Homo sapiens: one gene and its partner. The protein of the gene in region 1 purifies or fractionates together with the protein of each later gene. This does not show direct contact. Each region holds a gene or a part of one and is shown on either strand. Other genes may lie near its edges.

Evidence for each region.
Region 2: the proteins of CSPG4 (region 1) and NEDD9 purify together in Homo sapiens (co-immunoprecipitation; one study listed by IntAct). This does not show direct contact.

What each region holds. Positions count from the first base shown.
Region 1 is NC_000015.10:75,685,349-75,689,166, reverse strand, and holds part of CSPG4 (chondroitin sulfate proteoglycan 4 precursor), read left to right. Parts: coding exon 1-1,891; intron 1,892-3,465; coding exon 3,466-3,818. UniProt on the Homo sapiens protein: Proteoglycan playing a role in cell proliferation and migration which stimulates endothelial cells motility during microvascular morphogenesis. May also inhibit neurite outgrowth and growth cone collapse during axon regeneration.
Region 2 is NC_000006.12:11,225,851-11,229,668, reverse strand, and holds part of NEDD9 (enhancer of filamentation 1), read left to right. Parts: intron 1-3,818. UniProt on the Homo sapiens protein: Scaffolding protein which plays a central coordinating role for tyrosine-kinase-based signaling related to cell adhesion. As a focal adhesion protein, plays a role in embryonic fibroblast migration.

The DNA of each region.
Region 1 (3,818 bases):
TCCTGCACAGGACTTGACGTTCCGGGTCAGCGATGGACTGCAGGCCAGCCCCCCGGCCACGCTGAAGGTGGTGGCCATCCGGCCGGCCATACAGATCCACCGCAGCACAGGGTTGCGACTGGCCCAAGGCTCTGCCATGCCCATCTTGCCCGCCAACCTGTCGGTGGAGACCAATGCCGTGGGGCAGGATGTGAGCGTGCTGTTCCGCGTCACTGGGGCCCTGCAGTTTGGGGAGCTGCAGAAGCAGGGGGCAGGTGGGGTGGAGGGTGCTGAGTGGTGGGCCACACAGGCGTTCCACCAGCGGGATGTGGAGCAGGGCCGCGTGAGGTACCTGAGCACTGACCCACAGCACCACGCTTACGACACCGTGGAGAACCTGGCCCTGGAGGTGCAGGTGGGCCAGGAGATCCTGAGCAATCTGTCCTTCCCAGTGACCATCCAGAGAGCCACTGTGTGGATGCTGCGGCTGGAGCCACTGCACACTCAGAACACCCAGCAGGAGACCCTCACCACAGCCCACCTGGAGGCCACCCTGGAGGAGGCAGGCCCAAGCCCCCCAACCTTCCATTATGAGGTGGTTCAGGCTCCCAGGAAAGGCAACCTTCAACTACAGGGCACAAGGCTGTCAGATGGCCAGGGCTTCACCCAGGATGACATACAGGCTGGCCGGGTGACCTATGGGGCCACAGCACGTGCCTCAGAGGCAGTCGAGGACACCTTCCGTTTCCGTGTCACAGCTCCACCATATTTCTCCCCACTCTATACCTTCCCCATCCACATTGGTGGTGACCCAGATGCGCCTGTCCTCACCAATGTCCTCCTCGTGGTGCCTGAGGGTGGTGAGGGTGTCCTCTCTGCTGACCACCTCTTTGTCAAGAGTCTCAACAGTGCCAGCTACCTCTATGAGGTCATGGAGCGGCCCCGCCATGGGAGGTTGGCTTGGCGTGGGACACAGGACAAGACCACTATGGTGACATCCTTCACCAATGAAGACCTGTTGCGTGGCCGGCTGGTCTACCAGCATGATGACTCCGAGACCACAGAAGATGATATCCCATTTGTTGCTACCCGCCAGGGCGAGAGCAGTGGTGACATGGCCTGGGAGGAGGTACGGGGTGTCTTCCGAGTGGCCATCCAGCCCGTGAATGACCACGCCCCTGTGCAGACCATCAGCCGGATCTTCCATGTGGCCCGGGGTGGGCGGCGGCTGCTGACTACAGACGACGTGGCCTTCAGCGATGCTGACTCGGGCTTTGCTGACGCCCAGCTGGTGCTTACCCGCAAGGACCTCCTCTTTGGCAGTATCGTGGCCGTAGATGAGCCCACGCGGCCCATCTACCGCTTCACCCAGGAGGACCTCAGGAAGAGGCGAGTACTGTTCGTGCACTCAGGGGCTGACCGTGGCTGGATCCAGCTGCAGGTGTCCGACGGGCAACACCAGGCCACTGCGCTGCTGGAGGTGCAGGCCTCGGAACCCTACCTCCGTGTGGCCAACGGCTCCAGCCTTGTGGTCCCTCAAGGAGGCCAGGGCACCATCGACACGGCCGTGCTCCACCTGGACACCAACCTCGACATCCGCAGTGGGGATGAGGTCCACTACCACGTCACAGCTGGCCCTCGCTGGGGACAGCTAGTCCGGGCTGGTCAGCCAGCCACAGCCTTCTCCCAGCAGGACCTGCTGGATGGGGCCGTTCTCTATAGCCACAATGGCAGCCTCAGCCCCCGCGACACCATGGCCTTCTCCGTGGAAGCAGGGCCAGTGCACACGGATGCCACCCTACAAGTGACCATTGCCCTAGAGGGCCCACTGGCCCCACTGAAGCTGGTCCGGCACAAGAAGATCTACGTCTTCCAGGGAGAGGCAGCTGAGATCAGAAGGGACCAGCTGGAGGTGAGGAGTTGGAGGTGGTGAGCAGGGGTGTGGGCCAGGTAGAGGGCCTTCTCCCAGCCTCCATGCCAGGAACACACGTGACTTGGGCTGTGGCTGTGGTGGCTCCAGGTTACATGTGTGCACGTGCCTCAGATGTGCTCCCGTATATGTTGTGCTCCCAGGAGTTTCTGGGGAGCTTGCTATACACCCATCCTCCTGGGAGTTGTGTGCGCCTCCAGAGGTTGTGTCCACTCATGTGTATGACATGGCTGAGCATGCAGATTCCTGGACCCCACCCAGCCCTACAGAATCTCTGACGTGGAGCCCGAGAATCTCCATTGCAGTCAGTTCCCTGGGAGGACATCACGGGTCCTGAGCTTTGGGGATTGCTGACCGTGGAGACAGGCCGCTACTCCTCAGACCCTCATGTCCCCCACTCTTTTCTCAGAGCCCAGACCTGGGTGGCTTCTGCCCACCCAGGAACCCCACAGAGCAACCACGGGCCCTCCAGCAGGCTCACTGACTTGCCCTGTGACCTCAGGCCAGTCCTTGCCCGCTCTTGGCCTTACTCTCCTACACTGCTCATTTCGGAGACCCTTCTGGTCTGCATGTCTGGAGCTTGGGGCCGACAGCAAGCCAGCAGATCTGGAGTCAGGAAGGCCTCGCGGGAGGAGGCAGCGTTTGGGCCGGGCTCTGAAGAGCACAGGCCATCAGGAGCAGAGAATGGGGAGTGGTATTCCAGGCAGAAGGAACATTCCGGGCAAATGCATAGAACAGGAATGTGAGTTTGGGGGGTGGTTTGGCCTCTTGTGGCTGGCCCATCAGGTGAGGGAGCCCGTGTGGCCTTTGGGGCGTGAGCTCTGTAGGGCCTGAGCTGAAGGCGGCTGTGCCTCCAGGAGGGGTGGGGCGGGGCGCCCTCTGATGGTCCTGGGTGGTAATAGCAGGGGCTGGGGAGGTGCTGCCTGCAAACCAGCCACAGGCCTGAACGGATCCTGAGCAGGGGGGCCTGTGTGTGTGTGTGTGCACACACGCATGTGTACATGTGTGACTGCGTCAGCATATGATGAACTCGTGTGTCTGTGTCACTGAGTCTGGGGACATGTGATTATGCACCTCCCTGAGGGAGTGCATCTCAAGCTGTGTGACCGACCCCCTGCAACCGTGTGTGGGGTGGGCATTAACATGTGACCAGCAGCCGGGGCAACCCAGTGAAACCCCATCTCTACACAAAAAATTTAAAAATTAGCCGGGCCTGGTGGCACATGCCTGTGGTCCCAGCTACTTGGGAGGCTGAGGTAGGAGGATCCCTTGAGCCTGGGAAGTTGAGGCTTCAAGGAACTGTGATTGTACCACTGCACTCCAGCCTGGGTGACAGAGTGAGACCCTGTCTCAAAAAACAAAAAATGTGACCAGCTGCATGTCTGGCTGCTGTGTGTGTGAACCCACGTGTGTGTTTGTGTGTCTAAATGAGCAGTGGTATCTAGAGGAATAAGTGGGGCAAGATCAAGCCTGTTCCGGCTTCTTAGGGCCACAGTGGACCCCTCTGAGACCCCCTCTGTGGCCCCCTGTGAGTCCTTGTGACCTCTGTTAACCAGGCAGCCCAGGAGGCAGTGCCACCTGCAGACATCGTATTCTCAGTGAAGAGCCCACCGAGTGCCGGCTACCTGGTGATGGTGTCGCGTGGCGCCTTGGCAGATGAGCCACCCAGCCTGGACCCTGTGCAGAGCTTCTCCCAGGAGGCAGTGGACACAGGCAGGGTCCTGTACCTGCACTCCCGCCCTGAGGCCTGGAGCGATGCCTTCTCGCTGGATGTGGCCTCAGGCCTGGGTGCTCCCCTCGAGGGCGTCCTTGTGGAGCTGGAGGTGCTGCCCGCTGCCATCCCACTAGAGGCGCAAAACTTCAGCGTCCCTGAGGGTGGCAGCCTCACCCTGGCCCCTCCACTGCTCCG
Region 2 (3,818 bases), on another chromosome or scaffold:
TAGTAAATTACGGGGGCTTCATTTATTAAGAATTTTCTACAAAATCCCCTTCATATACAGAGCATGTTCTTAATTGGGCGGGGGCTGGCGGGGTTAGGTGATTGCCTCGATGGCCTTGGTTTGCTTACCCAGTGAAGGCTCCCTCCTGAGGGTCTGGAGGTGTATGGTTGTGCTGTTTCCCAGGAGGGTGATGGAAGGGTCTCTGCGCAGCTGTGTTTGAGCAGAAGCCCCCGAGACCCCACCCCGTTTGTGCCTGCCAGGCCCGAGGCCCCGCCCACCTCAGGCCCAGCCCGGGCGGGGGCTCAGCGGCCCCTTGGCCTGGCTGCTAATGGCTGAGCAGAGACGCTTTTGTGGCTTTGCCAAATTTCTGAGCCCTTACGTGCCTACATTAAAATTCTAAATTATTTATCTCGTCTACCATGCAACAAATTCATTCTTTAACGTTTTGACTGAAGAAAAATTACAGACGGAACTTACAATGCCATTAAGAAAGGTGCATTCTGAAAGTCAGAGTCCTGTGTTCTGGTTGAATGGGGTAGGTCAGGGAAAGGAGAACCTGTGTGCCGTGAAACGCTTTGGAAAGGACTTTGAAAGTATTCGTATTTCCTCAAGCAAGACCGAGGAAAATAATGACAGAGGATCTTTAATTTAGTCAATATGGTCATGCATAAGCTATTAAATTCCCAATTATTTCCTTGCTTTGATATTTTGGTTTAAAATGCTTTATTTTTCTCTGTATGATTTTTGCAACCAATCCAAATGTAGGACTCCTGTCCTTTTCCTTTTTAAACCTTGTATGAGATCTATGGATTTAAAATCACTAAAACATGCTTTGAAAAATATCAACTTGGTTATTTATGTATTTATGCATTTATTTATTTATTTAGTAAACCCATTTGCAGAGCTAAATGGCTTACCTACACAGAGATAAAAGCCTTTAGAGTACTGAAGGTGCCTGATAATACCAAATTTAGCAAGTTGTACAGTGCGTAACATGCCAAGGATTCCTTTAGCATCCTTTCCTTGCTGGGATACACGTCAGTCCCTGTTCTCAGAATTCAGTGGTTCCCTGTCTCTCCCTTCACTCCAGTCTTCTGAAAAAAACACCTTCCTCTCCACTTTTCTTTTTTTCTTTTTTTGAGATCAAGTCTCACTCTGTCGCCCAGGCTGGAGTGCAGTGGTGCCACCTCAGCTCACTGCGACCTCTGCCTCCTGGGTTCAAGTGATTCTCCTGTCTCGGCCTCCTGAGTAGCTGGGATTACAGGTGCCCACCACCATGCCTGGATAAGTTTTGTATTTTTAGTAGAGATGGGTTTCACTGTGTTGGTCAGGCTGGTCTCGAACTCTTGACCTCAGGTGATCCACCTGCCTCAGCCTCCCAAAGTGCTGGGATTACAGGTGTGAGCCACCGCACCCGGCCTTTTTGCAAATTCTCTCCCACTTTCGTGCTTTTATGACCTCATTGGTTCTCCTTTTATCTTCTTCTTCTTCTTTTCAGGCTTTCCTTACGCTTCTTTAATACTGACTTCCGTAGATCTTACTTCCAACCCCCTACTCCCCAGCCCCCCACCCGCACCTATCTACTGCCGCCCCCTTGCCTCCCACACACAGATGTGACACTTTTAATGCACATTCTGTAGCCCTCATTTTTCCTTCTCCTTAGACTCTGCTATGGGAAATCTTGGTCCCTCACTGCCCCCATTCATCTGCCTCTCTGTTTGCGTTTACATGACTTGAGTGGCCTGTCAGTCCCGCTAGTAAAGTCTCCTCATCCATCCACTCTGTTTAAACAATCAAACTCTGAAACCTGTGTCTCCTGGACCATCCTATAATCCCTAAAATAGGCTGTTATGCTTTTCACCTCTGCCCTACTCTGTTAGCACTACCTTACTTATTGACCTCTTTCAATCAAATCGTTATCTAAAGGATACCTGTAACTCAGATAGGTTGCCTACTGGGCCTGTTTAGTTTTAAGTAAACCCCACTGAATATGAGAGACCCACCCTCTATTTGTATGTAGAGGCAGATTGATCGAAAAGTCCTTGAATAAAAAACATGATCTAGGGTCTGTGAAGTTTTGAGGGGGCCAAGACTTGGTGTTTTATGCTCTTGTGTTAGAGACATGATAGAGCATGGGCTTTGAAGAAAGGCATTTCTGTTCCTTATGGCTTATAGCTCTGGACCTTAGGCAAGTTAAGCTCTCTAAGCCTCATTTTACAGCATTGTCTGTAAAATAGGGATAAGAATAACTGCCTCATACTATTCGAAGACCTGGGATAATATATGAATGAAGTACTTACTATGGCTCTTGGCATATAGTAAGCAGACAATGCAAGCTGGCTCCAGCTCTCTTTGTATGGTAGATGCTCAATAGATGTTGAAAGGATGGTATGTACTCAAGACTTGGTGACAGAATTATGTCAAAATCCCAGTTACTAGGTTGAGATGGTTGAATATTGTTGAGTATTCTGTGGGCCTGGATGTGTATTGTAAGCATAGGGCCCTAACAGCATATGACCCCACTTGCTAATATACTAATGACTTGATTCCTTCATTATTGTTCATTGGACTCAGTATTCCTGAAATTACAAGACTTTGCTCATAGAAGACAAAATGTATACACAAATAGCCATTTAAGAGGATCTTAATACTATATGGCATAGTAAAAAAACAACAACAACAACAAAAAACATGGGCTTTGTTTCAGATCCCACTTTTGTTACTTTCTAACAGTATAGTTTTATGCTAGCTACTTTAAACCTTCTTTTCCTCATTTATCAAATGAGAATAATACCTGTCTTGTCAGATAGTTATAGGATATAATATATGACAATTGTCCTTTCTAGCAGATATTAGGCATTTAATAAATGGCAGCTATTATATGATGTTATATACACATACCCACAAAGATATACAGATATATAGATATGGAATTTTTATATAGATAAAAGTGTTTAAAGGAGACATTCACTAGAATTGTTTACCCATAACAGAAATATCAGTGAGGAAGAGAAAGTCGTCAATTCAAAAAACCAAAGATAAAATCCAAAGAATGTAAGTTGGGAGTACATGAGAAGTTCAGGGTGAACTCTCTTATCCAATTGCAGTCAATTAGAATGACATAAATGTAAAGTAAGAGGTCTTGGTTGTCTATGTTTAGATCATTTTAGGGTCAGAAAGAAATCTGAACAAATTGGTTTGAAATGCCAACCACTAGGACCAAGGCAATACTCTGCAAGAACATATAGGCTGAATTACCAGGACTTCTCGCCAAGACAAATGAAACAGGGCCATTGGGAAGAAATACTATATTTCTAACTTAAAATGCCAGAGAGTAACTGACGGTTTCCTAGGTGATAGATGGTTGCAAAGAGTACGGGCATGAAAAGGGGACACACACACACAAAAAAAAACCCTGTTTATACTTTGCCAACAACACCCCCCTCCATCTTATTTACTTTGAACATTCCAGCCATCTCTCTGCAGTAATTCCTGCTGGCTAATGAGGATTCCACACAGCTAGGGAACATGACAGCCTGCAAAGGATTATTTTCCTGAACAATCTGCATTTTAAGATAAGTCACCTTGTTGGTAACCTTTTGTACCCTTCATTGGAAAGGGTGACTCTCTTTGAAGACAGTTTGACCAAACAATGAGATCTAGGTGAATTTGAGGAAGATAGAACGGGCACTCCAGAAATATGGATAGTGGTGGAGCTGACAGCAGTTTTTCATGGTTGACGTAGGGAGTGGAGGCAGCTGTCATGGAGATATTAAAGTTGCCAGTGGAATGTTTTCCAATACATATTCCTGGGCCCC